Homo sapiens: one gene and its partners. The protein of the gene in region 1 purifies or fractionates together with the protein of each later gene. This does not show direct contact. Each region holds a gene or a part of one and is shown on either strand. Other genes may lie near its edges. The genes, in order: SELENOS, DERL2, MAGEA10, TRDN, UFD1, UBE4A and SVIP.

The links.
Region 2: the proteins of SELENOS (region 1) and DERL2 purify together in Homo sapiens (affinity purification with western blotting; 3 studies listed by BioGRID and IntAct, with this or other methods). This does not show direct contact.
Region 3: the proteins of SELENOS (region 1) and MAGEA10 purify together in Homo sapiens (co-immunoprecipitation; one large-scale study listed by IntAct). This does not show direct contact.
Region 4: the proteins of SELENOS (region 1) and TRDN purify together in Homo sapiens (co-immunoprecipitation; one large-scale study listed by IntAct). This does not show direct contact.
Region 5: the proteins of SELENOS (region 1) and UFD1 purify together in Homo sapiens (affinity purification with western blotting, with the first as the bait; one study listed by BioGRID). This does not show direct contact.
Region 6: the proteins of SELENOS (region 1) and UBE4A purify together in Homo sapiens (affinity purification with mass spectrometry; one large-scale study listed by BioGRID and IntAct). This does not show direct contact.
Region 7: the proteins of SELENOS (region 1) and SVIP purify together in Homo sapiens (affinity purification with western blotting; one study listed by BioGRID). This does not show direct contact.

The regions. Positions count from the first base shown.
Region 1 is NC_000015.10:101,274,187-101,279,221, forward strand, and holds the start of SELENOS (selenoprotein S), read right to left. Parts: upstream 3,300-5,035; 5' UTR 3,232-3,299; coding exon 3,156-3,231; intron 2,490-3,155; coding exon 2,355-2,489; intron 1,176-2,354; coding exon 1,069-1,175; intron 496-1,068; coding exon 406-495; intron 310-405; coding exon 234-309; intron 1-233. UniProt on the Homo sapiens protein: Involved in the degradation process of misfolded endoplasmic reticulum (ER) luminal proteins. Participates in the transfer of misfolded proteins from the ER to the cytosol, where they are destroyed by the proteasome in a ubiquitin-dependent manner.
Region 2 is NC_000017.11:5,475,956-5,480,435, forward strand, and holds part of DERL2 (derlin-2), read right to left. Parts: coding exon 4,432-4,480; intron 4,190-4,431; coding exon 4,099-4,189; intron 2,045-4,098; coding exon of another isoform or gene 2,002-2,044; exon of another isoform or gene 1,894-2,001; intron 1-1,893.
Region 3 is NC_000023.11:152,132,351-152,136,098, reverse strand, and holds the end of MAGEA10 (melanoma-associated antigen 10), read left to right. Parts: intron 1-18; exon of another isoform or gene 19-109; intron 110-264; 5' UTR 265-338; intron 339-413; 5' UTR 414-478; coding exon 479-1,588; 3' UTR 1,589-2,789; downstream 2,790-3,748. UniProt on the Homo sapiens protein: Not known, though may play a role in embryonal development and tumor transformation or aspects of tumor progression.
Region 4 is NC_000006.12:123,217,864-123,221,399, reverse strand, and holds part of TRDN (triadin), read left to right. Parts: intron 1-2,659; coding exon 2,660-2,799; 3' UTR 2,800-3,536. UniProt on the Homo sapiens protein: Contributes to the regulation of lumenal Ca2+ release via the sarcoplasmic reticulum calcium release channels RYR1 and RYR2, a key step in triggering skeletal and heart muscle contraction.
Region 5 is NC_000022.11:19,454,495-19,458,974, forward strand, and holds part of UFD1 (ubiquitin recognition factor in ER-associated degradation protein 1), read right to left. Parts: intron 3,646-4,480; coding exon 3,577-3,645; intron 2,425-3,576; coding exon 2,359-2,424; intron 2,141-2,358; coding exon 2,093-2,140; intron 1,275-2,092; coding exon 1,186-1,274; intron 337-1,185; coding exon 255-336; intron 1-254. UniProt on the Homo sapiens protein: Essential component of the ubiquitin-dependent proteolytic pathway which degrades ubiquitin fusion proteins.
Region 6 is NC_000011.10:118,375,958-118,380,437, reverse strand, and holds part of UBE4A (ubiquitin conjugation factor E4 A), read right to left. Parts: intron 3,865-4,480; coding exon 3,744-3,864; intron 993-3,743; coding exon 688-992; intron 1-687.
Region 7 is NC_000011.10:22,826,647-22,831,741, forward strand, and holds the start of SVIP (small VCP/p97-interacting protein), read right to left. Parts: upstream 3,156-5,095; 5' UTR 3,103-3,155; coding exon 3,049-3,102; intron 2,966-3,048; exon of another isoform or gene 2,709-2,965; coding exon of another isoform or gene 2,649-2,708; exon of another isoform or gene 2,611-2,648; intron 1,229-2,610; coding exon 1,178-1,228; intron 675-1,177; coding exon 561-674; intron 1-560. UniProt on the Homo sapiens protein: Negative regulator of the ER-associated degradation pathway (ERAD) of misfolded proteins. It competes with AMFR/gp78 for binding VCP/p97, and inhibits AMFR/gp78-VCP/p97 complex formation that is required for degradation of ERAD substrates.

The DNA of each region.
Region 1 (5,035 bases):
TCCCTCTACGGGGCTGCAGAAGGATCAAGTTAGAATACTATAAGTACAATCCTTCTAAGTACTTAGTGAGGACCTAGGAGGTGATTTGCATCTGTTTCCTTTATTGAATCTTCACAATCCTAAGGAATTAGTCTTAATTTATGGACAAAGAAACAAACAATCTTGTTCCTAAAAGGTAACTATATCCTGTAAGTGTTGAAAATCTGTTAACATTTGACATCAGTGGTGCTTACCTCCTCCCCGCAAAGGCTTTCTGTCCGATTTCCGTTTCAGGACAGATGAAGTGGAAGGCCCAGGACTGTCTTCCTCCTGTTTGAACACACACAGTAGTGTAAGAAGCAATTAAAACATTCTACTTGGCAATCTTCATCTACCGCATGCCAGCCGGCCGAGGTCTCCAGTCACCTGGGGCTTCTTTGCATTTCCTTTGTAACTTTTTCCTTCTTGCATGCTGTCCCACATTTCAATCTTCTGTCTCCTTTTTTCTTCTTCAAGCTGAGAAACAATCACATTTTACAGAAAGAATTCAGAAGCTGCCATTTCTCTCAAAGACAAAGCTAACTCTGATAATTCTTAATTTAAATGTCTTTCAGAACAAACTTCACCCTCGTTTTCTTTAGTTAATAAAACTGTTGTGATCTGGTAGTGTGAGTTTAACTCACATAGAGCAGCTTTGGTTTTTGTACACTATTAAAGAAAGCAAAATGTTTCATGAAAAAGATTACTGACTCCATTCTTCTGAAACTCACTCCTGTCAGGACATTTTTGGTAATGGGGAAGACACAGGCACATGCACACACACACTCACATGCTCCCTGCTCCAGCCTGTCCCTCCTTTTGTGCTCTGGACCTTTCATGGTAATATATTCACACATCTAGTGTTCCCTAACAATCGTGTATTCTTCTTGATATCACCAATACTTACATGGTAGGAACTGAAATGCTTATTGAATCTAATGGGATAGGACCTGGTCCTAGAAGCTTATAGACAACACAGACACAGGCATCGTTAGCCACTAAACCTCAGACAATTTCTATGCACACATTCAAACTGAAACCAGTTCATACTTGTTTCAGTTTTTCCTTATGCTTTTCAACTTGCGCATTTAGTTCTTCTTGCATTTTCAGTCGAGCAGCTGCTAAAGCTTCTTGTCGTTTAACAACAACATCAGGTTCTAAAATGTCAGAAAAAAATGGAGATAAAGCACTGTGTACAATATAAAATAGAAACTTTTGAGTGTCCATATTATTAAAAGTATAAAGAGGTATGGATATCAGACAATGAAACAACATATTTTTACATAAGTACTCCTAACCCCTCTGCATACATTTTACTGCTTCAGGGGGCAGGGGTCTGTTGCTGAGCCACGGATTTTAGCCCGAAATATCTACATCACCAGAAATCTGTTAGAAATGCCAATTTCTGAGTTCCCCTGAGCAATTCCGATTCATAAAGCCTGGGATAGTGGCCACACAGAGCACATCTTGGATACCTCAGTGACACCCACAGTCTCTAGGCTGACTAGAATCCTGGAAGACTACCAAGGAAATATAAAGTTTTCTAAATCATTATCCATCCCTTAATTAGCGCAGAAGATTCTTAAGTATTTGTTTCTACAGAAAAGAAAAATCCTTCCAAATAGCATTATGAATAGAAATGAACTCATTTCTATTCATAACGTCTACTCATAGAGTCTCGCTCTTTGCAACAAGGCTAGACTCCATCTCATAGAAAAAAAAAAAAAAAAGAAAGAAAAGACAGTCTCACTCTGTTGCCCAGGCTGGAGTGCAGTGGCACAATCTCAGCTCACTGCAATCTCCAGCTCCCAGGTTCAAGCGATTTCTCCTGCCTCAGCCACCCTAATAGCTGGGATTACAGGTGCCCGTCACCACGCCCCACTAATATTTGTATTTTTAGTAGAGACAGGGTTTCACCATGTTGGCCAGGCTGTTCTCGAACCCCTGACCTCAAGTCATCCTCCTGCCTCGGCTTCCCAAAGTGCTGGGATTACAGGTGTGAGCCACCGCGCCCCACCGAGAACCATATACTTCCTACTTTTTTTTTTTTTTTTTTTTTAAAGACAAGGTCTCAATCAATTGCCCAGGCTGGAGTGTAGTGTGGCCCGAGCATAGCCCACTGCAGCTTTGACTCCCTGGACTCAAGTGATTATCCCGCCTCAGCCTCCTGAGCAGCTGGGACTACAGGTGCGTGCCGCCACTCCCGGCTATTTTTTTTTTTTTTAAATAGAGACAGGGTCTTCCTGTGTGGCCCCTCTTACTTTTACTAAGAGACTAACTCTTAATATAAAGGAGGTGCAAAACCACCGCTTTCATTTCGGTTATCAGGCACTAACCCACAGCAGCCGCAGCTCGGTCCAGCTGCCTCTGCCTCAAGGCTCTTAGCCGGGCGGAAAGCTTCTGAAAGACCACGTAGAGAAGGATGCAGCTGAAGACGATGTACCAGCCATAGGTGGCCAGCAGGGAGCCCACTGAAAAGAAAAACAGTTTTCAAAAAACTAAAAATGACACTACTAGTTGACCTTTCCATAAGACTCAACAAACACAAAGTGTAACTCCTGCCCTCAAAGCCTTCATGGTCTAGGCTGAGGAAAAAGCCTCCTAAGTAGATCGTTAAAACACGAACTCAAGAAGTGCGACAATTCAGGGATCACTGAGAAGTGAGACTTCCCAACCATCTGGGGAGTCGGGGGCAGTTAGAGTGTGGAGGGCACAGCAACTGGGTTTTGAAGAATGAAGAGCAACTAATCTGAATCAGGAAGGCAAAGGCCTTTCAGAGCCACATAGAAAGGGGTGACAGCGCGGGGAGTCAGGAGTGTGTATGGGGCTGTGTGGGACGGGTCCCAGAGGCAAACGCCAACGGCCGAGTGACCCCAGTAACTACCACAGGAAGGGCTTGGTTCGCAAAAAAGACTTGCGCAAACAAGGGACAGCCGAGCCGCCCAGGGAAGTGCGGCTCCCGAGAAGCCTCCGCGCAAGGTCCGGGCCTGCTGCCCAAGGTCCGCGTAAGCGCCAACGCCCGACCGTTCCCAGGCCTCCCAGGCTCCGGCGCCCGGTGCAGCGGCGGACGACCCACCCATCATGGCTGCGCGTCGCAAAAGTGGCGGCGCGCGCCCGGCTGCCCCGCAACGACTCACCCGTGGTGTGCAGGAAGCGCAGCCCCTCGGTCTCCAGGGCCGGCCGCGCGGACAGAGACTCCTCTTGGCGTTCCATGACCGCCGCCGCCGCCGCCGCCCAGCCCTGCCGCCGCGCCTCCAGCCGGGCGCTTCCGGTGCGCTCCTACGCACACGTGGCGCGCCCGGACGCGGTCGTGGTCCCGGCCAATCGCAGGCCGACCCCGCCCCGTCGCTGGGCCAAACGCAGGGGGGCGTGGCCGAGGGGCGTGGCGGGGGAGAAATCCCGGCTACGCTCGCCGGGGCCGGGACAGCGCGTGTGGGAACGTTCTGTGCTATCTCTTGGCTTGAGTCGGGGGTGGAGGACGGACCTCGTTCACGGATTTCTTACCGAATTTCTACTTTCTTTTTTTTTTCTAATTGGACACTGAAGCCAAGGAAGTCAGTGGTCGCCCGGAAGCAGGATTTGCACCCACATCCTTGCCCGGGGCACATTGGACAACAGGGCTCAGTTGGTTGACGACTCCCAGCATTTGAGGGTTGCAGCCAACGTCCACCCCAAGTGAAGACACGAAATGTGAGCAGCCTCCTGCTCCTGCTGCTGGTGATACCTTTCAGGCCAAGAAAGTCCCCACCGATCCTCAAGGTTCTTTCTCCAAAATCAAAGCCTTTTAGGAAAGAACGATCATAGTAACTGCTCTAACCTGTGTTGAATTATACTGTATCACCACAAGACACGATCACAGAGTTACTTATAATAGTGTCCTGGCTGTGTTCCTCTGCCTGCAACGCCGTCCCGCACCCTCTTCCACCACTCAAACGTCACCACCTTTATGGTGACCATAACCATCCTATTTGAAATGTGACCTTGGGTTTTTCTGGAGCATTTGAAGTGCACATACCTAGCTGTGTTTCAAAAGAAGGGTTGGGAATTGGGAATAGAACTGAAAAAATAATGAATAGGTGACAACATCCGAGTGCTGCGTCACCACTGTCGCCAGGAGCAGTGTGGGGAAGGCAAACCATGACATGAAGCGTGAACGCAATCAGTGTTTCTTCAATGCAGGTTTGCCAAGAAGTTCCTCAAGGGGGACAGCTGCAGGGATTTGAGCACTGACCTCATCAAGCTTTCCCAGCAGTGTGTTCAGAAAGCAATAAAGGGGACCTGGCATTCATGAGCCATAGCAAAGAGAAGCCTGAAAGCTCTTCTTCCCTGTTGGCCACCTTGAAAATGGACTCCTCAGATGAACCGAGGACTCTGGATGTTATCCATAAAGGCTGTGAAGATAGCTTATCGATTTAATGAGGAATTTTAGGAGGGAGAATTTCCTTCTTCATGTTTGCCTTTCCGTTGTAAAAGGTGATGAACCATCACCACTCTTTGCTTTGCTACAGATGATTTCTCACTTGCTCTGGCATCTTGCAGGAACATTTATGTGCTAAATTGAATGACTTCTATGGAATTAGTTGCAATTCTCAGTCCCAGATTAGCTTTAAATCCGCCTTACATCTAAATACTGATAAACTAGACAGGATGAGCAGGGTTGCCTCAACTATTTTGTTAGGCTGTGAAGGACATTAGGTATACCGTACTGGGGTCATAGTTCATGGAAAAAAATGGTTAGGGCCTCACTTTTCTCTCAGGAAACTCATACCAAAACAGTTTCAATCAATGCTTGGGAGCAGTTTTATTTTTATACAGTAACTTAACAGGATGGTTTAACACAAGAGTTCCCCATCTTGACAAGGTGTCAGATGAAGACTTGAGAGCTTCAAGAATGTTGCAGTGGGCCAGGAGTGGTGGCTCTTGCCTGTAATCCTATTGCACTTTAGGAGGCTGAGGCAGGAGGATCACTTGAGGCCAGGAGTTCAAGACCAGCCTGGGCAACACAGCAAGATCCCAT
Region 2 (4,480 bases), on another chromosome or scaffold:
TAGGATGAAGAGAGTTCTATGGATGGTGGTGATGGCAGCAAAACAGTATGAATATACTTAATGCCACTGAACATTTAAAATGAGTTAAGATGGTGAATTTTATGTTAGGTATTATTTTACCACAAAATTTTTAAAAAATTAACAAGGTATCCCAAGAAAAATTACTGCAGAACATAGGAGGGGATAGTAAATGTCCAAAAGACTCCCTAAGTACTATGATGTAGTAATTCAAAACCTCACTAAAGAAGGAACCATTAAAGCAGCATCCTCAATTTGCACTTATATTTCTACTTGTAATCCTCCACAGTTGATAAAATTAGAAATGTATCTGAAAACTTCTGATTTATACTGGAGTCAGAAAATAGTATAATTCAAAATGAGTTTTTAAAATTCTTACAAATTAACAATAAAAACAAACATACCAACAGAAAAAATGGGCAAAGGGCTGAATATGCAATTCAAAAAGGAAATCCATGTGGTCAATAAACGTGAGAATGTTTGCTCTCACAATAATCAAAGGAAAGTATATTAGAAACTGAGATCCCGGCAGGTGTGGTGGCTCATGCCTGTAATCCCAGCACTTTGGGAGGCCGAGGAGGGTGGATCACCTGAGGTCAGGAGTTCAAGACCAGCCTGACCAACATGGCAAAACCCTATCTCTACTAAAAATACAAAATTAGCCGGGTGTGGTGGCGCATGCCTATGATCCCAGCTACTAGGGAGGCTGACGCAGGAGAATCGCTTGAACCCAGGAGGCGGAGGTTGCAGTGAGCCGAGATTGAGCCACTGCACTCAAGCCTGGGTGACAGAGCAAGAATCCGTTTCAAAAAACAGCAACGACAACAAAAACAAAACTGAGATCCCTTCTACTGCCCAAACATTAGCAGGATGGGGGTGGGGGCACAGCCTGGTATAGGGAGTCAAGAGCCCCATCAGACCATGCACACATGGAGGTGGCCTGACGAGATGTTAGCCCGAGTAGGATGGGGAGGCATCCCTGTAAGAGGGCAGCCTGGTCTGGGGAATCTGAGGGTGAGTGAGATAAGCAAGGCATCCATATGGGAGAGGTGGAGACTATCCCGAAAGACTGGTTACATATGAGGGGTAATTAGGTAGGTAAAACATTAATCATAATAAGAATCAGGTTAGGACAGATGGAAAGGGCAGATGGAAAGGAGTGGTACATTCATACAACCAAATAATATTCAGCAATAAAAAGGAACAAATTACCAATAAATACAAGAACACAGATGAGTCTCAAAAACATTATGTTGAATGAAAGAAGCCTTATACCAAAGAGTACATGCATACTGTACAATTCTACTCATGAAGTTGTAGAACATGAAAAACTAATCTACAGAGGAACAAAACCAGAATAGCAATTGCTTCTTGGGGGACAGGTACAATGATTGACAGGGAAGGACATCAGGGAACTTTCTGGTTGATGGTAATTTTCTGTCTTGATAGATACACAGATGTGTGCATTTATAAAAACTCAGTTGACACACTCAAGATTTGTGTATTTTGTTGCACATAAATACTAAACTCTAGTTACTGATATGCACACTCAAGTATACAAGGAATTAAGTATACATATAATGGCACATACATTTTGGATTGGAAAGCTAGATGTAGGGATAGGTGTGCAATAAGAATAGGGAACTATTAATTACAGAATCTATGTGGTGGCTACATGAAGCTCACTCCAATTTTTTTCTGATTTCCTATAAGTTTGTTAATTTTCATAATAAAATATTGGAGGAAACCAATAGGAAAAAAGCTAGAATGAACCATGAGGTAGTACTAGAAATGGGAGTATAGTATAAACCCATGTTTTAAAAAATACATAGATCTAAAAATATACACATGTATACATTATCATACATACATACATATAATTCCATTGCTCTGTTCACTGAGAGGATCTGGGAATAGCAACACTCCAATAGCAATGAGCACATCTAGCACCCAGATCTTGGCTTCTAAATACCATTCTCCACTTTAAAGGAACCAGGGCTCCTTGAAGAAACAGCTGATTCTAGGACTGGATCAAGGAGAGCACAGGATGAGCCTGGTATATCTTGTTGTGCCAGAAAACAATTGCAAAAAAATAAAAAAATAAAAAGTGGGGTGTAGTGGCTCACACCTGTAATCTCAGTGCTTTGGGAGGCCAAGAGACAAGAGGATCACCTGAGGACTGGAGTTCGAGACTAGCCTGGGCAACATAGAGAGACCTTGTCTCCACAAAAAAAAACATTTAAGAAAGAAAATAAGCAGAGCTTGGTGGTGTGCACCTGTAGTCCCAGCTACTCAGGAGGCTGAGGTGGGAGGATCACTTGAGCCCAGGGGCTTGAGTTAACAGTGTGCTATGATCATACCACTGCACTCCAGCCTGGGCAATGGAGTGAGACCTGTACTGCATATGTAATTTCTTGTAGGACTGAAATTGTTTCAAAACATTTTTTAAAAATCATAAACAATGAGACATCATCCTACAACTATTCAACTAGGAAAGGGTAAATAAAATGCCTTCCTTGTTTGATTAGGATGTGGGGAAATGAACAGTTATAAATGCTAGTTGAAATGTAAACCTGAACATCCATTCTGGAAGGCGTTTGGCAACAAAATAGGAATTCTACTTCTAGGAATTATCTTTTGAAAATAATCATGGATGTGTGCAGAGATTTAGCTACAAGGACATTCACCACTCCAATTACAGAAGAGAAAACCAAGCACTAACGTCAATGTCCATCAACAAGGGATTAGTATAATTACACCATATCCATACCATGGAATATCACCTGTTATAATTTTATAACACTTCAGGGTGGAAAAAACAATTATGGCATACTAAGTTTACAAGGTTACAAAAATTGTTTTTTGAGACAGGGTGCCACTCTGTCCCCCAGCCCGAAGTGCAGTGGTGCGATCTCGGCTCACTGCAGTCTCAACCCTCTGGGCTCAAGCAATCCTTCCACCTCAACCTCTCGAGTAGCTGGGATTACAAGTACATGCCACCATATGCAGCTGATTTTGGGATTTTTTGTAGAGATGGGGTTTTGCCATGTTGCCCAGGCTGGTGTCAAACTCCTGAGTTCAAGTGATCCGTCTGCCTTCACCTCTCAAAGTGCTGGGATTACAGGAATGTGTTATGTTGTCCAGGCTGGAATGCAGTGGCTATGTTAAAGGCCTAGCCCAAGAAGAGCAGTGGCTGTTCACAGGCGCAATCATAGTGTATGCAGCCTTGCCTGGCTCAGCGTTTTTTAAAAAGTACACAAAGACTGAAGAATACACATTGAAAAGTTAACAATGGTGGCCACTGCTATACCCAAGTGTCGGGATAGTGGACAATTTCACTTTCTTCTTTTTTGCTTACTATTCTACAACAAACATTTTATAACAAAAACTCACATTTTACTTCTCAATTGAGCCCTTTTTAATATGGCATCTCCCAAGGATACCAAATTCCAGAGTAGAAAGAGGTCTCATAAATCAAAGTTCTACTGCACTCCAGCCTAGGTAACAGAGTGAGACTCCATGTAAAAAAAAAAAAAAAAAAAAAAAAAAAAAAGAAAGAAAGAAATCAAAGTTCTATCTCAGGAAACTGAAGTGCAAAAAAGAAAGGACTTGCTCTATGGCTGGTCAGTGGGACAGCTACACCTGGTTTCCAGTCCAAAGCTATTTCCACTCTGCTTCACTGCTTATCTCAACCACCTGCTTGGCAGGCCACAAAGTCCACCATCAGAAACTTTCATCAGTTTTGCCCATTTTGCTACCTTACTTCACTAAACGTGGACAGCAGCTTTCATAAAACCAGCAGGCTCCTACCAGAATAGAAGTTCTAGTGGTCATCTCTAACAATTACCAGGTTACTCCCAAGATATCTTGAGCCTGTTGACGTTGGTCTTGCCACAACCCTGGCACTGTCTGCTCCTACCCAGTCCAAGTGCTCTTCAACTGTAGCCAGAATGCTCAATCTGCAAATGGTTACTGACCTGAGCTATGTGTACTAGGAGCTAGGGGAGCCAAAGAAAACACAGATCATGCCCCTGTCCTGGTTTGCCTGTAAGAGTATGTAACCTGGTGTTAAATACTCACAAAATAGATGGTGTTTTCAGAATTCTTATTCCACCAGGTTGATTGGGAAATACATCTTCCAAGAAAAAATATATGTGTCCAACTGCAATACCTAGAGTCAAGCAGAAATAAAGGATGAGGGAGAGAATTAAAATTTAGATTGCAGGTAGACCTACCAACACAAATTGCCTATATTTAGGATGAATGTCAACATAATTATTAAAAATTAATGAACTAATATTGTGGTATTTTACAATAGGTAATACGTGAAGGCCAAACAGAATAAACATGAAAAATAGTAACAAAATACTTTTACAGGTAAAATAATTTAAAAAATAGTGAGAAGAGCCTTACCCAAAAGGTCCACAATGATTGAGTTCCCCAACAACAAGGAAAATCCCAT
Region 3 (3,748 bases), on another chromosome or scaffold:
CCTCAATTCCTCTTTCAGGAGCTCCAGGGACTGTGAGGTGAGGCCTTGGTCTAAGGCAGTGTTTTCAGGTCACAGAGCAGAAAGGGCCCAGACAGTGCCAGGAGTCAAGGTGAGGTGCATGCCCTGAATGTGTACCAAGGGCCCCACCTGCTCCAGGACAAAGTGGACCCCACTGCATCAGCTCCACCTACCCTACTGTCAGTCCTGGAGCCTTGGCCTCTGCCGGCTGCATCCTGAGGAGCCATCTCTCACTTCCTTCTTCAGGTTCTCAGGGGACAGGGAGAGCAAGAGGTCAAGAGCTGTGGGACACCACAGAGCAGCACTGAAGGAGAAGACCTGTAAGTTGGCCTTTGTTAGAACCTCCAGGGTGTGGTTCTCAGCTGTGGCCACTTACACCCTCCCTCTCTCCCCAGGCCTGTGGGTCCCCATCGCCCAAGTCCTGCCCACACTCCCACCTGCTACCCTGATCAGAGTCATCATGCCTCGAGCTCCAAAGCGTCAGCGCTGCATGCCTGAAGAAGATCTTCAATCCCAAAGTGAGACACAGGGCCTCGAGGGTGCACAGGCTCCCCTGGCTGTGGAGGAGGATGCTTCATCATCCACTTCCACCAGCTCCTCTTTTCCATCCTCTTTTCCCTCCTCCTCCTCTTCCTCCTCCTCCTCCTGCTATCCTCTAATACCAAGCACCCCAGAGGAGGTTTCTGCTGATGATGAGACACCAAATCCTCCCCAGAGTGCTCAGATAGCCTGCTCCTCCCCCTCGGTCGTTGCTTCCCTTCCATTAGATCAATCTGATGAGGGCTCCAGCAGCCAAAAGGAGGAGAGTCCAAGCACCCTACAGGTCCTGCCAGACAGTGAGTCTTTACCCAGAAGTGAGATAGATGAAAAGGTGACTGATTTGGTGCAGTTTCTGCTCTTCAAGTATCAAATGAAGGAGCCGATCACAAAGGCAGAAATACTGGAGAGTGTCATAAGAAATTATGAAGACCACTTCCCTTTGTTGTTTAGTGAAGCCTCCGAGTGCATGCTGCTGGTCTTTGGCATTGATGTAAAGGAAGTGGATCCCACTGGCCACTCCTTTGTCCTTGTCACCTCCCTGGGCCTCACCTATGATGGGATGCTGAGTGATGTCCAGAGCATGCCCAAGACTGGCATTCTCATACTTATCCTAAGCATAGTCTTCATAGAGGGCTACTGCACCCCTGAGGAGGTCATCTGGGAAGCACTGAATATGATGGGGCTGTATGATGGGATGGAGCACCTCATTTATGGGGAGCCCAGGAAGCTGCTCACCCAAGATTGGGTGCAGGAAAACTACCTGGAGTACCGGCAGGTGCCTGGCAGTGATCCTGCACGGTATGAGTTTCTGTGGGGTCCAAGGGCTCATGCTGAAATTAGGAAGATGAGTCTCCTGAAATTTTTGGCCAAGGTAAATGGGAGTGATCCAAGATCCTTCCCACTGTGGTATGAGGAGGCTTTGAAAGATGAGGAAGAGAGAGCCCAGGACAGAATTGCCACCACAGATGATACTACTGCCATGGCCAGTGCAAGTTCTAGCGCTACAGGTAGCTTCTCCTACCCTGAATAAAGTAAGACAGATTCTTCACTGTGTTTTAAAAGGCAAGTCAAATACCACATGATTTTACTCATATGTGGAATCTAAAAAAAAAAAAAAAAAAAGTTGGTATCATGGAAGTAGAGAGTAGAGCAGTAGTTACATTACAATTAAATAGGAGGAATAAGTTCTAGTGTTCTATTGCACAGTAGGATGACTATAGTTAACATTAAGATATTGTATATTACAAAACAGCTAGAAGGAAGGCTTTTCAATATTGTCACCAAAAAGAAATGATAAATGCATGAGGTGATGGATACACTACCTGATTTGATCATTATACTACATATACATGAATCAGAACATCAAATTGTACCTCATAAATATCTACAATTACATGTCAGTTTTTGTTTATGTTTTTGTTTTTTTTTAATTTATGAAAACAAATGAGAATGGAAATCAATGATGTATGTGGTGGAGGGCCAGGCTGAGGCTGAGGAAAATACAGTGCATAACATCTTTGTCTTACTGTTTTCTTTGGATAACCTGGGGACTTCTTTTCTTTTCTTCTTGGTATTTTATTTTCTTTTTCTTCTTCTTCTTTTTTTTTTTTTAACAAAGTCTCACTCTATTGCTCTGGCAGGAGTGCAGTGGTGCAGTCTCGGCTCACTGCAACTTCCGCCTCCTGGGTTCAAGCGATTCTCCTGCCTCAGTCTCCTGAGTAGCTGGGATTACAAGTGTGCACCACCATACCCGGCTAATTTTGTATTTTTTAGTAGAGATGGGGTTTCACCATGTTGGCCAGGCTGGTCTCAAACTCCTGACCTCAGGTAATCTGCCCGCCTCAGCCTCCCAAAGTGCTGGGATAACAGGTGTGAGCCACTGCACCCAGCCTCTTCTTGGTATTTTAAAATGTTGTTACTTTTACTAGAATGTTTATGAGCTTCAGAATCTAAGGTCACACGTTCGTTTCTGTTTATCCAGTTTAAGAAACAGTTTTGCTATTTTGTAAAACAAATTGGGAACCCTTCCATCATATTTGTAATCTGTAATAAAATAACATGGAATTGGAATAGTAATTTTCTTGGAAATATGAAAAAAATAGTAAAATAGAGAAAATAATTTTAAGTGTTAGTATTTTTATTTCTTTATTATTTTTAGTTTATCATCCTGCAAAATTAAAAGTTATATCCCTGGATCTTGTTAAGTCGAAATTAAACTGTAATAAATGAAACCTTTGCTCACTAGTGCATTTTTTCCCCAAACATCCACTGAGCATCTGGTCTGTGGAAGGCCCTGGGTCTGTAGTGGAAATGTTAAGCCAGAACCACCTTTACCCATAGGGTGGTAGAGTCTAGGGGCTGCAGTCAAGTAACAAGGTGGCAAGATGTCCTCTAAGACCCAGAAGAAAAGTAAGACGGGGTGAGGGTATTGGGCTGTAGGTGAGAGTGGTCACGTACATCCTCTGAGCCAGGACTTTTGGGGCTTTGAGAAACTGCAGTTCCTTCTGGTGAAGATGAATCCAAAGAAGCTGGGTGGTGCCAGGGTCAGAGCCTCACATAGTTGACAGAGCAAATCCTGGGATGTAAAACTGCTCTGAGCAGTTCCTTTTGGGTGGTGGATGAACAGAGAGGAGTCCACCTGGGGCAGGAATGGAAGGTGTTCTGCACTCTTGTCTCAGTGCAGTTGAACTCCTAATTAAATTAAAAAAATAACTAGGTGATAGATACCCATCATATGCAAGGGTCTCCTGAGAGATAAGGATCTCATAATAAATAAGCCTATGAATTGATGCCTAGAAGTTAGCTGACTCCATTAGAGAAACATTTTAATTGGGTTATTTTTAGTGTAATTTGAACAACACTAAGCAAGGGCTAGATTTTGAGTGGTGATGAAATGAATGAAAATCATGATTTGGATGGAAAAGAACCTTGGAGAGAGGGAAGGAGTTGATACTTGACTCAAATTCCATGAACTTTGAGCAGCATCCAGCAGGGAGAAACTCCTGCACATGAAATGTTGAAAATATATCCTCTAAGAGGGAAAATTTACTGAGTTTTATATGTGAAGCAACATTTGTGACTGATTTGGGATTCCATGTTCCACTGAGCTGCATATTCTGAGATGTACTGGATAACAATGACAAAAATTCCAGAGAAGACTGTGGTGGGGTCTGAGGTCAAATAATATTAG
Region 4 (3,536 bases), on another chromosome or scaffold:
AGTATTCGAAGAAAAAATTTTTTAGCATAGACATGAAGAATAACATTAAAGTAGGTCATTTATATTTTAAAAAGAAGCGTATCACTTTTGTGTTAGGCAAGAGGCAGATAGTTGGAAGAGTTACAAGTAATGGTTGAAGTGGCATTTATCGCAAATCCTTCTACATATTTCTGATCCTTAGTACTCTGGCTGAATCTATGCTTAAATGTGTCTTACTGCCTGCTTTATAATAGGACAGCTGAAGTAATATGCCAAATTTTTTTATATCAGGTAGAAAAAATGAAGAAATAGGTTTTAGCAATTCAATTGCTTGGAAACTCACTTCTAAGATTCAAGATTCTTTTTGATTTTGCTAGATGTATGGTAGGTTCTAAATATTCAAACTTTGGGATCATTTATTTTAGAATCCAATCAATATTCATGTGCAGTTACAAAATTCAATGCCCAAGTTTCTCATTATTTCGGTTCTTCCAAATTAGACATTTTTGTTCATATGGTAAAGCAATAAATTTTAAATCTGTATTTGCATTAAAGTCATTGCAGAACAGAATAAAGGAAGCAATTTTTGAAATAGGTATAACTGAAGTTTGTGTCACATAATGCTTTTAAAGTAAAGAGCTAGATATTTGTCTGAAGAAATGACGTCTCTTGATTCTCCAGTGCTTTTTGGATGTTTTTGTGCAGGAAATTACTAAAGTGCCCCTTACAATAGCAAATGCCTCCTACTCTGTATTAATAGGTGATTCATTAGACAGATACTGAATGCCTACTATGTTCCAAGTACTTCTTTGGATGCTGGAACTACTGCAGTAGATAAGACACTTATTATAATCCTTCATATAATAAGGTTGTGAGAAATATAGGGAAATAAGCAGAGTCTTATGATACTTTGAGTAATATTACAAAATCCATAAGAAAAAGAATTATAGGTCAATCTGGACATATTTTCATTTTATATAGCAACGCTTTCCCAATTATTAACCTACTGGTAATAATTTGTGGCTATGTCACATAAACATTTGAAATCTCATATATTTTAAATAACTATTAAAATATAATTCAATGAGACAGGTGAATTGTATCAATACCAGTTTCCTAGTTGGAATATTGTTCTATAGTTTTACAATATGTTACCATTGAAGGAAACTAGGTGAAGATATGTGGTATCTTTCTGTATTAACTCTTACAATTACATGTGAGTCTACAATTATTTCAAAGTAAAAATTTTAATTAAAAACAAAACGCAAATACTTTTAGTAAAATGGTGTCAAATATTCTAACCTCAGTTGGGGGATCTATTGCATCAAAATGATATTTGCTATCTTCGTCTTACAAGAAGGCAGTTCTATAGCCTGATATTCATGAGCCTTTAATTTAAGCTCTAATATTTGCAGTCATAATAATATTTTAATGAGTAGCTTATTCAACATCAATTAAATAAATGTGTCAAAACAGTGTCCACTTCTGATAAGCAGCTGGAAGGCAGCCTGTCATTGATGGGCCCTTCTACTTTTAGCAATGGATTTCCATTTCTCCTTGTGCAGGGCCGGCTTTACTACTGTCCCTCTTGTAGCCTGCCTAACCCCCAAGCTCCCATAACCTCCACAAACTTGAAGAGACGGAAGTTGTATTATTGCTTCGGTTTGAAGATAGAAGAAAAGAGAAATCATTCCAGATGAGATGCATTGGAAAAGATAACTAAATTCAAGATTCTTCAAACTATTGTCATCCCTGAAAACCCAGTGACCCATGGAAATGGAATCAGAATACTCCCTGGTTGCTTCTCCAGCTTCCTTTTTTCCTATCCTTTGCTTTATTCTACTTCATAAACCCCTAGTCTCATATGGATTTGGCCATCTTCTTTATCTCCCACACACCACTAGCTTTAACTATGATTTTTCTTTCCTGGCCTTCTGCAAAAATCTATGGCTGGTTGACAGAATGCAAATGGATAGGATAGAAAACACTGGAAGTTTGTAGGCACCCAAGATTGTGAGGAGATGCTAAACTCGCCATCTTTTACCAAAGCTGCTACCTGGGAGCACCGGCTTACTGAGTCCAGAGTCCTTACTTGCACCACACTCCCTTAACTTTCCTGTTTTGCTTTCTACTCAGAGCTGCTACCTGGCTGCTACCTTTGTTGCTCAAAGAGCAACCAAGCCACCTTAGGAAAGCTCTTGCCTCTAAAGTAAGGGCAAATAAAACTTCTAGATGTTGGCACCACCTCTCTGTGACATTATAAAACACACACACACAGTCTGTTGCTTTGCATATTGATAAGCTCATATTTTGAAACCTGTGACTATGTCTCTATGATTGCTATGCACATCAACAGATGTCTATATGATCAGAACTTTGACTTTCTCTGCCAGGCCATTTTTATTATCACTTATTAAAGGCTTATTACATACCAGGAAGAATTTTAAGAGCACATGTAACTCATGTAACTCATTTAACTGTCATAATATTTCTGTGCGGTTTTCGTTGTTTTGATGTTATACATAAAGACTCCAAGACACAGTGAAGTTTAGTAACTTGCCAACAGCTACGGAGGCTGCTGGCAGAATCTGTGACCTTATCTGCTGCACTGCACTGCCTCACTGTGCTTTTTTGCTCATGTTCTGCATGTTTTAACAAACTGTCATGCTCTGTTCCTTAGGTCCCATCAGTTTCTTCCAGTGTGTCTACTTGGATGGGTACAATGGCTATGGATTTCAGTTTCCTTTCACTCCTGCAGACCGCCCTGGAGAGAGCTCTGGTCAAGCAAATTCTCCAGGACAGAAGCAACAAGGACAGTAAACACACATGTATGACCCTTACAAGTGCTTTAAGATTTTAAAAATGTGATGTTTTGTCCACAGTAGTTCAGGCAATTAAGAATATGCAACCCAGAGAATTTCTGTGAAAACATTTTGCTCTTTGGCCTGGTGTGGACGGAAAGGGTGGCCAAATGGATTGAGTGATGAGCAGACATGTTTAAGGGTCTAAGTCTCAAGAATCTGTTATGTGTGTTTGCTGCGGTGGGAGGGGGTGCTTGTATTTATCTTATTTCCAGTCACTATAAGGTTGTACACAAACTAATTTAAAGTTTACTTAATAATGGTATCTTTAAAATAATTGACACAATTGCAAAATGAATTCCTGGCTTCAGTTAGCTATTATTTTTTTAATGACAACATAGACTGTGCTCTAAGTTTAAAAGATGGGGAAGCTTATATAAAAGTGACCCTTTTGCATCATATGGGTATCTAAACTTAATTTACCCAATAAGTTGATGCTTAATGATTTTATTTTATTTTTGTCTATTTCTATTTTAGTTGTGGCTTTGCTCTAAGAATGGGTAATAGTTGTACTACAGACTGCTATAAATTTCTTGTGATACTCTTTTAGAGCTCAAAATATCTCTGAGCTTTAGACATGGTAAGGTGGAGAGTAAATGCTTGATAAATCTTTAAGATATGTCTTGAATGATAATTAGGACATTCAGTCCAGTGGAAATACACCATTCAATTAGTCAGGTCTGGTGAATCGTTTGT
Region 5 (4,480 bases), on another chromosome or scaffold:
TTTTCTCTGCCTGCTACCATCCATGTAAGATGTGACTTGCCCCCTGCCATGATTGTGAGGCCTCCCCAGCCATGTGAACTGTAAGTCCATTAAACCTCTTTCTTTTGTAAATTGCCCAGTCTCGGGTACATCTTTACCAGCAGCTTGGAAACAGACTAATGCACACCCCTACTCAGAATGCCAAGAACTTCAGTCATCACTAGCAAATAAATCTCCTCATTACCAACCAAGGAAATACAAGGAAATACACTCACCTCTTCAACCTTTTTGACAAGGGGACGTGAATTTCTGATGAAAGTTATCTTACCAAGTTTAAATTCATAATTGGGAATTCCTCTGTAAGAAGAGACAGAGACAGAGAAATGTTATTTCCAGGAAAAAAGGACTAAAATTCATTTTTGACAGTCAAGAGGAACGCAGAAAAGATGCTGCTGCACCCCACCTGGGCCCTTTGGTGCTTCCTGGCATCCTCCCAGGAGGGAAGCAGAAAGTAACTGACTTCTTGGTTTGGTATCAATATTGGGTATAGGGCCAGGGGCTTTAGGCTCTGTACCTGTCTATGGAGAGGGGTCATCTGAAGGATTGGGAAGCCCTCACTGTCACTGTCCTGAGCTTCACAGAACCCCCTGAGGTGGCTAGACTCTCACTCCAGTATTCTGATTTCACACACACAACAGACAACTGACACACCTCAGCCCTGCCCCTGCCATCATGGCCACCAGAGGAAGGGTCTGCTGTGGGTCCCCGGACCCAGCAACAGAAGCACATCTGAGGTAGCTCCTCAGGGAACTTTCAGGGGAACTGAGATAATGTGACCTGATTAATAATTCCAAGTCACAAAACAGGAAAATAGGCAGATCACCAAATAGGGACCAGAAAGGTTTTGAGTAAGAGACAGATCTAATCAGACTCGCATCTTAGGAAAGCCAGTGGGGGCAAGAAGAGGCTGAATTGGGGGTATGGAGAGGTATGGAGAGAGGCTGGACCACAGTGGTACTGGGGGTGGCACTGTGGAAGGAGGGGCATGTTGTGCTCCACCCCACCAAGGAGAGCAGCTAAGGGTTTTAGTCCCTTGGGAGACTACTGACCCAGGCTTTGTCTCCAGAACTGGGGTGAGGCTGCCCGACCCCAGCGGGCTGGCACAGATCCTCCTCCTGTCCTGGAGGAGAGCCAGGACAGACCTACCTTTTAATATCTCCAGGCTTGATTGGGGAGGGGCTGGGCTCTACCCCTTTCTTCTTTCCATCCAGTCTATTGCCAGATCCAGAGAAAGCCTAGACAGGAAGTAGGTGAGTCATATAATAAGCCCAAGTGTGAGGACGATATGTCCTTTGCTTGGAGATCACTGCAGGGATGTGAGCTGGGGGTGCTGTGCAGACCCCTTCAGGACTGAAGCCCTGACTCCTCAACTGCTGGGGTGCTGGCAGCTAAGAACTCTGCCCAGTTCCTCAGGGGGTGGCCATGAGCTGAAGACAGCCACTTGGCCAAGGGCAGCCAGCAGTCAGTGTTGGGTTAAAAGACCTGATCCCTGCCTCTGCAGGGCCACCCAGTTCAAGCTCTATGGGTGGGCTAAGGCTACTGTTGTGACTGCCCCATAGCTCAGCTTCCCATCATTCTGCCCTCTCTGCTGCTTCCTGGCACCTCCTGCCACCTCAGTGCCCACACATGAACCACCTCCACCTGTTTCCCATGGAGCCTTGCCAGTAGTTATGCTAAGGGTCATGTTTGCAACCTACATGGTACAGGCAAAGAAAAAAGGAAACATGATTTACAAGAGAGAGAAAGCAAATGTGGTAACTTTTGGTGAACCTAAGGGAACAGTATATGTCTACTGTACTATTTAAACTCTTCGGTAGGTTAGAAATTCTTAAAAATCTGGGCTGCCTTATGGGGCTGTTGGGAAGATTCCAGGAGAGAGTGGATACAAAAGGGTTTGGTAACTGAGCGAGTGGCAGATTTGCATATGCACAGGTACCCAGAGGCCTAACCCCTGCTGATGTCCATCGAGCATCATGGAGAACACCTTGAGTGAGTGCTCTAATTTCAAGGAGCAGAGGGCACAGCAATATAAGTCAAGTGGTCTGGTACTCACGCGGAAGCCCAGCTCTCCAGCATAGCCACTGTGGTCGGCTTCACCTTCCTGACAGGGAAAAAGAAAAACAGGTGAGCTCCTCAGCGGGGACACCCAGCTTCCCTCTCACCCCCACCCCCGGCTAGGATGTCCCCCGGAAGCATGGCTGGAAGGGACGCAGAGGATATGACTACACCAACACTAGCAGAGGCCACCCACGAGCCACTGCCAGGAACTCAAAAGCAGCATGCAGCAGGACAGCAAAGGACACTGAGGATAACACTTACTGTCGACTCCTCATGCTGGACTTGTCTTTCGGGTTCTTTGTAGCCCAGGGGAGCATCAAAGTCCACCTGTGTTTCCAGGATTTTAAAAGTAAAATATTGAGACATGACCACCCTTGGCTTCCTTTTTTGTTTTTAATTGAGACAACTGTAGATTCACATGCAGTTTTAAGAAATAATACAAAAGATGCCTTGTACACTTGCCCAGTTTTCCCAACGGTAGCATCTTACAAAATTACAGTAAAGTATTGCTGCCAGGATATCAACACTGGCACAACCCACTGCTCTTATTCAGATTTCCCCAGTTTTACATGTTTTTGTTCATGGGTATCTTTAGTTCTACACAATGTAATCACTGTGTGGGGCATGTATCCACCACAGTTGAGATGTAGAACAGTTTCACCACCACTAGGACTGCCCATGTTGTCTTTTTATAACCATACCCAGCTGTCTCCCAGCCCCCTCCACCAGTCCTAAGCCCTGGCAACCACTGGTCTGTCTTCCATTTCGAAAGTTCTGTCACTTTGAGGATGTTATATAACGAAGTAACTTTTTGGGATTGGCTTTTTTTGCTCAGCAGTATTCCCTAGTAATACAACCAGGATGCTGTGTGCATCAGCACTTCATTCCTACTCAGAAGGTTCAGTACGCTTCCTTAGCTCTTAAGCATATTCACTCCTCGGCCAGGCGCGGTGGCCCACACCTGTAATCTCAGCACTTTGGGAGGCCGAGGCGGGTGGATTACCTGAGGTCAGGAGTTTGAGACCAGCTTGGCCAACATGGTAAAACCCTGTCTCTACCAAAATACAAAACTAGCCGGGCCTGGTGGCACATGCCTGTAATCCCAGCTACTCGGGAGGCTGAGGCAGGAGAATCGCTTGAACCTGGGAGGTGGAGGTTGTAGTGAGCCAAGATCGCACCACTGCACTCCAGCCTGGGCAACAGGAGTGAAACTAAGTCTCAAAAAAAAAAAGAATATTCACTCCTCAACGGGTCAGAGCTAACCATGGCAGCACTGGCAGCAAACTCTGTTGCCCCAACTGGCCCTGAGATAGATCACAAGGTCACAGTCTCCTCATGATGTTCTGACAGCATCTTCCTCCTCTTTACCCAGAGTCCCAGGGGCTGTTTGATGCCCTCCTGACACCCTGGCCTGCAGTGGTCACCAACTGCCCATCCTCCCAGGGCCCAGGCTCACTGTAACTGGACAGAGCCACTCACGTTCATGTCACACTCAATGATGGACACTGCCTTGTCGGGTTTGGTCTCCATCACACGCAGTTCGTAGATCTGTGGGGCAAACACAGAAATCAGTTGGATGGTTTCCTGGCAGCACTGGAGCTGTCGCTGTCCATGTTACTGTGGCTCTACTGGCTCCTGCGAATGACACAGCATTCATGCCCATGACACAACCTACAGCTGCACTTCTTGCTGTGACAACACTGCCATAAGGGACAGGCTGCCCTGTGCCCATCGCTGAAGAGATGCTGTTCCCCAGATATGGTTCAAATTAGACAAGGTAGTTATACAGCTAACTGCAAAAGACACTAACAACCTTTAACCTGGAAAGTTCACTTCTGGAACTTTACTATTTATTTTATTTATTTATTTTTAGACAGAATCTCGCTCTATCGCCCAGGCTGGAGTGCAGTGGTGCGATCTTGGCTCACTGCAACCTCCGCCTCCAGGGTTCAAGCACTTCTCCTGCCTCAGCCTCCCTAGTAGCTGGGACTATAGGCATGTGCCACTACACCTGGCTAATTTTTGTATTGTTGTAGAGATGGGGTTTCACCATGTTGGCCAGGCTGGTCTCGAACTCCTGACCTCAGGTGATCCGCCCACCTCGGCCACACAAAGAACTGGGATTACAGACATAAGCCACCGCACTCGGCCTTCGAAATTTATTCTAAGTAAATAACTAGCTATACCCAATGAGAAAATTCTAAGAATGCTCATACCAACGTCACTAATACCACTGTACAGATGCTCCTTGACTTATGATGGAACCAAGTCCCATAAACTTATAAGTTAAAAATGTATTAATATTCCTAACCTACCAAACATCATAGTGCAGCCTGCCTTAACCATTCTCAGAACACATACATTAGCCTACAGTTGGGCAAAA
Region 6 (4,480 bases), on another chromosome or scaffold:
GCTAATTTTTTATTTTTTGTAGAGATAGGGTCTCTCTATGTTGCCCAGGCCAATCTTGAACTCCTGGGCTCAAGTAATCATCCTGTTTCGGCCTCCCAAAGTGCTGGGATTACAGGCGTGCACCATCATACCCAGTCTGTAGTTTTAAGCTGCTATGTTTTGGGGTAATCTGTTACTCAGCATGATATGGCCAATACAATGGTTAAGAACACATAACCTGATTAGATTGACAACACCTGCCCACCCCTCAATGACTCACTGACACACACACACACACACACACACACACACACACACACACACGCACACACACACACACACTCTTTCCCTTCTGAGTTAACCAGCAGGAGCTAATTTTTTTTCTACAAAAAGGACAGGGAAAGTTAGATGAATGTGTAAGTTGAACAAATATTAATGATAGAAACTAACAGCTCTGAAAACTCTGATTACACTTAATCCTTTGAAGATGATTTTCTGATATGCATAGCAGGGGGACACAAGGTTGAGGGAACAAACTGTTAGTCCCCTAATACTTTGACCAGTAGATATTATCTAAGTTTGAGTTGTTTCTCCAAAAACAACTGAATGATAACGAAGAAAGGGTATTTTGAGGATTAAACTTCCAAAGTGACCCACTTAAACTCAGAAGGCTATAAACAGGACATTCCCAAGGGAGAGCCTGCTTACCTGGCACATAAGCCAAAGAGCTGTAGCCATCTGGCAAAGGAAAGGTTAGCTCTATTGGCTGTGAGCCCTCATTGCCTATGGCCAGTTGAACCAGTAGAACAGCCATGGACACCTGCAAGTTTAGGCAGTTTTGTAGCATTTGTGGCTCTGTCATGGCAGTCTTGGTAGAAAGATAGATGGTCATCAGTCGTTCAAACTGCTCACGAAGATTGTCAGCAGCAGGGCTAGAACTTTGCTGAGCATCCCGCCAGGCAACCTGCAGCCGATGCAGATTTTGGTTGATTTTTACCATCTGATCATGCAACCTGCCCCCAAGAAAGCAGAAGAGACTGGGTCAGGGAAAACAGAAAGTCACAAAAAAACAAATCCTCAATTATTTATCTAGCCTTCTCTTTAAGGATAGTAGGGAGTTGCAGTTGCAATGACACAGAAGGCACTCACAAAAGTTTTTGACAGGACACAGGCAGGGTGCACAGCAATGGGAAAATGCTGCCAAGTATTCAACATAATTGAAGCTAATTGCAAATAGCAGCCTTCAGTTGAAATGCACTATCCAAAGAAAGGCAGCTTGGTTGAGTAGGGTGTAGAATGGGTTGTTATTACATAAAATAATTATTAGGCAAAGTACAAGAAGGCCAGCAGGATAGTTTTACATCACACAAGGGCAATGATCATACTTTGATGCAATGATCATACTTTGATGGGGTTATATGGATAGTCTTTCTTTGGTTAGTAGAAAACTAAGCTGGTGAAAAGGGACTCTAGATTAGTAATGACCACATATAAACTAGTAGCCACCTGAGATGCAATCTAAGAGCAGCTTCCAGCTCTCTGTTGTTCAATATTAAATTAAATTATTCTTCAGAAAAGGTCAGCCTAATATTCTCTACTGAAAGGAAGACACATAATTCAAAGTTATGGATAATAGTCCAAAATCATTTCCTTTGGCCCTGTAGATAATGTCTTGAGCTAGCTAATATTGGGAAACTAGATGATATTCATTTTTTGTTTGAATCTAGGCAGCTGAGCAGCTTAAGCACATGCTGAACTTTTATCTACTGTCTTATTTAAAATGTCTATGATGGAGATTTCTCTCTAAAGACATAATTTCCTTCTTCCGGCAATGTGTTGACTGAGTAGTTTTGAAAAATGCTCTGCATCAATTCAGGTATCTTGAGAAGGCATTAAAAATTGCTATTCTTAGTGTCCCTTTCTATGACTGAGTTGCTGTTTTCTTCCTCTACTTATACCTGTCATAATCAGCTAAATCAGAGGAAAACAAATTACAGAATAATGAATAGCCAGAACCAGAACTGTTTTTGGAAGTCATACATTCTAGTTCTAAAATCTTAACATTTCTAGAATCTTCTTTATCTAATGTCTTTTGTGGTCCTATTGATCTCATTAGCTCCCTTATAAACATTTCCTTAATATTTGCCACTTTTGTCTCTATCTGTAGAGTAGAACTTGGTCTTTTTCTTTTTTTTAATTAATTTTTTTTTTTGAGACAGATTCTCGCCCTGTCGCCTAGGCTGGAGTGCAGTGACACCATCTCGGCTCACTGCAACCTCCGCCTCCCAGGTTCAAGCGATTCTCCTTCTTCAACCTCCCGAGTAGCTGGGACTACAGGCGCGTACCACCAAGCTGGGCTAATTTTTTGTATTTTTAGTAGAGACGGGGTTTCACCATGTTAGCTAGGACGGTCTTGATCTCCTGACCTTGTGATCTGCCTGCCTCAGCCTCCCAAAGTGCTGGGATTATAGGCATGAGCCACTGCGCCCGGCTGAACTTCATCTTTTATCACCAGGAGTAGTAATGAAATTTTTTTTTTTTTTTTTGAGACAGGGTTTCACTATGTTGCCCAGGCTGGAGTGCAGTGGCGCAATCTCGGCTCACTGCAGTCTCAACATCCCAGGCTCAAGAGATCCTCCCACCTCAGCCTCGTGAGTAGCTGACACTACAGGCACACGCCACCATGCCCAGCTAATTTTTGTATATTTTGTAGAGACGGGGTTTTGCCATGTTGCCCAGGCTGGTCTCAAACTCCTGGGCTCAAGTGATCTGCCTGCCTCGGCCTCCCAAAGTGCAAAGGATTACAGGCATGAGCCACCACACCCGGCCAGTAATGAAAATTTAAGAGCAGAAAGTGCAATATAAAATGAAAACAATTCCACTTTCCCAGATCACAATAGGAAGACAGTGATTTAATTTTTAAAGTTTAACAGGTCAAAAGTTAAAAAACAGGCCAGGCACAGTGGCTCATGCCTGTAATCCCAGCACTTTGGGAGGCCAAGGTGGTGGATCACCTGAGGTCAGGAGTTCGAGACCAGCCTGGCCAACACAGCGAAACCCCATCTCTACTAAAAAAATACAAAATCAGCTGGGCATGGTGGTGCATGCCTGTAATCCCAGCTACTTGGGAGGATGAGGCAGAAGAATTGCTTGAACCCAGGAGGCGGAGGTTGCAGTGAGCAGAGAATGTGCCACTGTACTCCAGCCAAGGTGACAAGAGCGAAAATCCATTTCAACAACAACGACAACGATAAAAGTTAAAAACAAATTTAAGGAATCTGGACAAAGCTGATTCATGAAACACAAGTAAATTCATACAATGCCCCTTTTCTATTAGATTCTAATGTGAACCTTTAGAATAAGCTCAGATTATATCTGTAAGACTCTTCCTCTCTTTTTTTTTTAAGAAACAGGTTATCACTCTGTCACCCAGGATGGAGTACAGTTGCACAATCATAGCTCACTGTGGCCTCCAACTCTTCGGCTAGAGCAATCCTCCTGCCTCAGCCTCTGAAGCAGCTAAGACCACAAGCATATGCCACCATGCCTGGCTAATTTTTTTTTTTTGGTAGAGATGGGGGTCTCACTTTCTTGCCCAGGTTGGTGGTCTTAAACTTCTGGCCTCAAGCAATCCTTCTGCCTTGGCCTCCCAAAATCCTGAGATTAAAGATGTGAGCTACTGTGCCTGGCCAAAGACTCAATTTCTACCTTCTAGTTATCAACACAACTAAACTGTTTTTTCCTAATGACATCAGAGGAGTTACCTGTGAAATCCCAAGTACAAGGTGTACTCTGTCAGAGCAAGGTTCTCTGTTACAAGGTTGTAGTTCTGTGGAAACTTCGGCTCCTGCACAGCTGGGATCAAACAGGTTTCTTTGTCCAAACCTCAAAGAAGTTAAAAAAAAAAAAGAGGGTAAATGTCTTGGTCTCCAGTCTCCTCTTACACTCATTCAATTTCCATACTGTTAGCAGTGATATCTTCTTAAAAACATATCTTGTCATATTAGTTCTTTGTCTGAATATATCTTTTGGTTTCTCACCGTCTACAGAAATACAGTTAAATCTTTTTCATGAAATCACCAAAAATTAAAAGGAATACTACTATAGATTGTTTCAAGTGATAGGCAATAGATCATTTGTATTTATTTTGTGCTTTTCTGAATTTGATTATTTGCTTTTGAGCAGTTATCATGTTTACAATTAGAATTATAAAACTGGAATGAAATATACCAAAATTAAGAGTGATTTCACTTTGAATGGTAGGACTGTGAGTCATTTATTTTCTCTTCATTTCTCTGTACTGTTTTCTCCAATCCAGCCCCACCTATCTTCCTCCCTTGATCCATTTCCTCCCCAACTCAACCCCATCTACCCCTTGCCCTAGCCACATTGAGCCTCTCACCATTCCTTAGTCAAGATTTTCCATAGCTTTGTACCTTTACACTTGCTTTTCTCTCTGTATAAAGGGACCCTCTTGCTTCTTTGCCTGGTAAAACCTAAC
Region 7 (5,095 bases), on another chromosome or scaffold:
TCTAGCTCTGGGATCCATATCTAGGGAGGTATGTGTATGATACCCACACCTGTATACATTCTGTAATCCAAATTAACATTTACATAACTATAATAAACAGGGGCAATGGAAAGATCAAAGATTCCAAATCAATGCGTAAAAGAGCTCAGGCCATAAAACAGAACTTATAGCGTAATCCAATTTAATAAGATATATAAATGAAGGTTAGAAATTATGTCTGTCAAAATGGTACTTAGTTTGGATGACTTTTACACTTCTTTATACTTCTCCATATTGCTTGAATTTTTGAATTATTTAAGATTAGTAGTAAGCATAAGAGTATTAAAATATATATAGTGTTAAAATAATAAATCTATTATTTCATTTTGGGGAAAAAAGCTAATTGATTCCAATAAATGTTAAAATAAATTGGTATTACTTCCAATATTTACTACTCATGCTTTTAAACTATTTCAAAATTTTCTGATAATACATTTCAGGAGAAAATTATGAATGGATTGCTACTTAAGTTTTTTTAAAATGCCAGTTAAGTTAATCACTAAGAAAATTTTAATACTTACCCTAAGTCCACCTTCTGGTGGGGGCCCGGATGTAGCAATTTGTTTTTCTATTTTTTCCTTTTTCTTTCTCTTTTCTTGCACAGATTGAACATCTAAAATTCCCCGAGATGCAGCCTTGAAGAAATTTGATAAGAAAAACAGAAAGACAACAAAAATCTGTCCAGTGTGCAAAACATTTTTTTGTCTATCTTTGCTTTCTAGGTTTTTCTTTGGGGGTAGGGAGTTGGTTTATTTTTGGTAACATAGAAGGAGTGTTTCTACAACAGCCTTACATAAAACATCATTTCTTCACTGGGTATTTTGTAACTATACAAATTTTCCCCTAAACTTGCTTCACATCTGTAAGTATTTTACAATGCACAGCCATTTTAAAAGGAAGGATGTTACTAAAAGAGTATCTGAATTTAGAGAAGATATGATAGTTTTCATATATTAATATAAATATATTAATGCAATTCATATAAATAAGGAAATCATTTTGAAAATAATTACATTTAAATGTAAATTTTTGGGATATCAAAGGCCATTTGCGTTAGAAAATCTAGCTATGGACATCTATGAAGAATAAAGTCCAAACTCAATTATCTAAGTAGGCAAAACTTGATCTTTAATCTTACCTCTTTTTGTCTTCTCTCTGCAGCCTCTGCAAGCTTTGCTCTTTTCTCTTCCTAAATAAATGTGTAAAAATATGTATTAAAATAACAAACATTATTATTAATAAATTATTCACATTTATTTCATAGGCACTATAACAATTTACAAAAATATTCGGTACTGGCCCTAAATGTCCCACAAAGAATGCCACTACTCAACTTTTTGAATTTCATTCTCCTAATCAATATGCCTTCAAATCAGCACATGCTAAAACAGATACAAGGTTTACCTATATAATCATTTATTTACTCTCTTTTTTAATAAAAAGGCCTACAAGCTAGTCAGGGCAATAACAAAACAAATAATGTTTACAAATACAAAAAGGAAAATACATGGTTTGTTACTGCCGGTTAAAATGGAGTCTGAAGTAACCTGGTGTTTTTAGGAAAGGTTAATAAATGAAGTGGGCTAATCTCAGTGTGTAGGAGGGAAGGACTGGAGTAATTTCATGAGAGGTATTGTTCCATATCAGAAAACAGTGAATGCTATTTTTCTAGACCATGTACTACTTATTATAAAGCCCTTTTTCTAGGTGCTGGGATACAACAGTGTAAAAACATAGATAAATGTCTCCTCCCAAATGAAACAAATTCCAATTGCGGGCGCACAGACAAATATAATGAAGTAAGTAAACGTCTGTCAGATGGCATGGCAGATAAGTAATGGGAGAATGGGTGGGTGGTATTGTGGGGAATATATTTTGTTTAACGTGGTCAGCAAAAGCTTCACTGGTAAAGTGACATCCAAGCAGTGAGCCGTGTGGTTATCAAGGGAAGAGGGTATAGTATGAGGATGGGGGGGAGGGCTTAACAAATCTGACATGTTATATTTTATCGACAGCCAGAACAACAAAATCAACTTAATTTAAAACAACAGCAGCAACAAAGAGAAGCTGAACTTTCCCACATCAAATTTATAAGTACTAAATTTTTAGTATCTATAGTAGCTGAAGAGTTAATGTACTTCCCAAAAATACTTCATTTTCTTCAACTAATTTTTAGCTAGAGAAGAGAAACAGGTTTATGTTAACTCCCTGTAAGGAGTACTAATGTAAAGATACTGTTAACAGAAAGCTACAAAAAGTGTACATGTATTGTACCACACACCCACTAGCTACATTTGAATTTCAGATAAGCAATGAGTAATGTTTTTGTAGAACTAGATCCCTAATATTGCATGGCACAAAACGATATTATAAACGTATTCCTTGTATATCTGAAATTCGAATGTAACTGGGTGTCCAGTATTTTTATTAAATACGACATTATAAATTGGACACTCTGTACTACATATTCTTTTAAAGGGAGAACGTAAAAGAATGAGATAAATACTAAAAAGAAATCATTAAAAAAACATATCCGATAAAGCTCAGGCGTATAAGCGACTTTCCGAGCACCTTCTTTTAAAAGATGGTAGACACAGTTGAAAACGCACATCTCCTAGACGACTAAAGAGCTCCCGGAGAAAGCAATGTCTTTTCGCGCCGAATTCCATCTACCACATCCCCCGGAATGTCCCACGCGTAACGCCCTCTGCGTGCGCCGGCGCCCTATGAAGATCCGGCGCAGCTAAAGTCAGTGGAAGGTAGAAAGACGCCACAGCCGCCTTTCGACAACTTTTTGTTACAAAAGTGGAGATCTACACGGAGGCGACGGCCTAGGTCGCTCTGACAGGACCCAACGACCCTCCTGACGCGTCCACCCGTCCTCGCTAGCAGGGTCCCCCAGCGGGCTCTCGACCTGCGCCACCAGGTACAATGGCTCGGCCCGCCCCGCAACCCGAGGACAGGTGCTCAAGGCGCGGCCCGGCGGACGCAGGGACCTGCTCTACTCACCAGGTCCGGCGTGGGAGGCGCGGACTCCCCGGGACAAGGAAAACACAGCCCCATAGGGACGACAGCTTGAGAACCCTGACCGGGTCCGGCCCAGGCCAGGCGGCGCTAACTGCGCGGTCCGGAGCCGGTCCCTGGTCCTCCGCGCTTGCCCCGCCCCCACCGCCCTCCACTGGCTCGGCTCCGCCCCAGCGGCAACGCCCCGCCCCCACCCCGCAGCTCTGCCCCGCCTCGCCTCTCTGCGGCAACGCCCCCCTCTTCTCGCGACACCAACCAGTCCCACAGCTCAGCTGCGCCCCCTTAAGGCATTGCCCCTTCCTCACCCACAGCTCCGCCTACCCCCGCCCCGCGACCGCTGGGCTTGTGGCCAAAGCCTAGGTTCCAGGAAACACCTGCTGTGGGTAGCAATGCAGGGAAGGGATGGAAAAGCTTCGCTACGGTTCCAAAGCTCTTCCTGCTAACCTTGCCTTACCATTTATAAATGAATGAGTGGTACAGCTCTGGGTAGTTCATGCTACCTTTTTTTATGAGATGGGACTCTGGTGTCCTAGAAATTAAAGCCAAAATTCCAAGTAAACATCAGCACCCTTTTCTCCCTTCTTAGTGACAGTGCTATTCCAGAACAGAGGGCAGAATATAAAATCCATTATTATGACGATGAATCTAGCGTCATAAATGTGGCATTAGTTGACATTTCCACTAGTTTCTGGTATTTAGAAGTCATTTATCCTTCCGAGAGAAATAATAAAGTTTCATCTACTGAGAAATGTTTTAATGATTCTCCTCAAATTTTAATAAGTATGAGAATCAGCTGGGCAACTAGTTAAAATTTACTTGCTGATTTAGTAAGTATAAGGTGGGACCTGAGATTCATTTCCAGTAAACCCACAGGTGATACTAAAGTTACTGATCTCGTCTCCACACAAATGCTTTTATTTTATTTTATTTTATTTTTGCATTCTATTAGTTATTTCTGCTTATGTAAAAATTTTCAAACATTACAAAAAGGTAGGATGTATAGTGACAGCGTCTCAGAAACCATTGTCGGCTTTTTGATATACTTGCTGGTTAATTTTTTATAGATGTATAATTTACATATAATATTATGCACTTATTTTGATTGTAGAGTTCACTGAGTTTTAACAAACATGTGATCACCACATTCAAGATATGTAAGTTTTCCATCACCCAAAAACCTTCTATTGTACCCAATCCCATTCAATACTTTATCCTATACCTAGATCCAGGAAACTATTAATTTGTTTAATATCACTTTAGTCTTTAAGTTTTGCATAAATGTTAATATCACTATAGTCTTTAAGTTTTACATAAATGAAATATACAATATGTTTTGCAAAAGCCATAATATTTTCTAAATTCTTCCATGTTATTGAATGAAACAGTAGTTTATTCCTTAAATAATAGGGGATGATGCTTTTTTAATACTATTATTCGATTGCATGGGCCGTTTCTAAGGGTAAATAAAAATATATAAAGAAAAAGTGAAGGTTCTCTGTTGCAAAAAGAGAAAGATAACTACCCACCTCCTCTTTAGCATTGTGTTTAGAAAACGTGAAATTGTAAGCGCTATCTCTGTCTCACTGAAATGTATGAAAAAAAAAAAAAGGCCAGGCATGGTGGCTTACTCCTGTACTTTTGGAGGCCAAGGTGGGTGGATCACCTGAGGTCAGGAGTTTAAGACCAGCCTGACCAACGTGGGGAAACCCTTTCTCTATTAAAAATACAAAACTTCGCCAGGCATGGTGGTGGGCGCCTGTAATCCCAGCTACTCCGGAGGCTGAGCAGGGAGAATCGTTTGAACCCGGGAGGCGGAGGTTGCAGTGAGCCGAGCTCGCGCCACTGCACTCCAGCCTGCACAACAGAGAGAGATTGCGTCGAAAGAAAAGAAAGAGAGGAGGGGAGGGGAGGGGAGGGGAGGGCAGGGGAGGCTAAATAAGCCTCTTGCCAGTTTTGCATCAGAAAGAAAGAACCTAAATAAGCCTCTTGCCAGTTTTGTATCCTCAGAATATCTTTGGAGGCCTATTGGCTT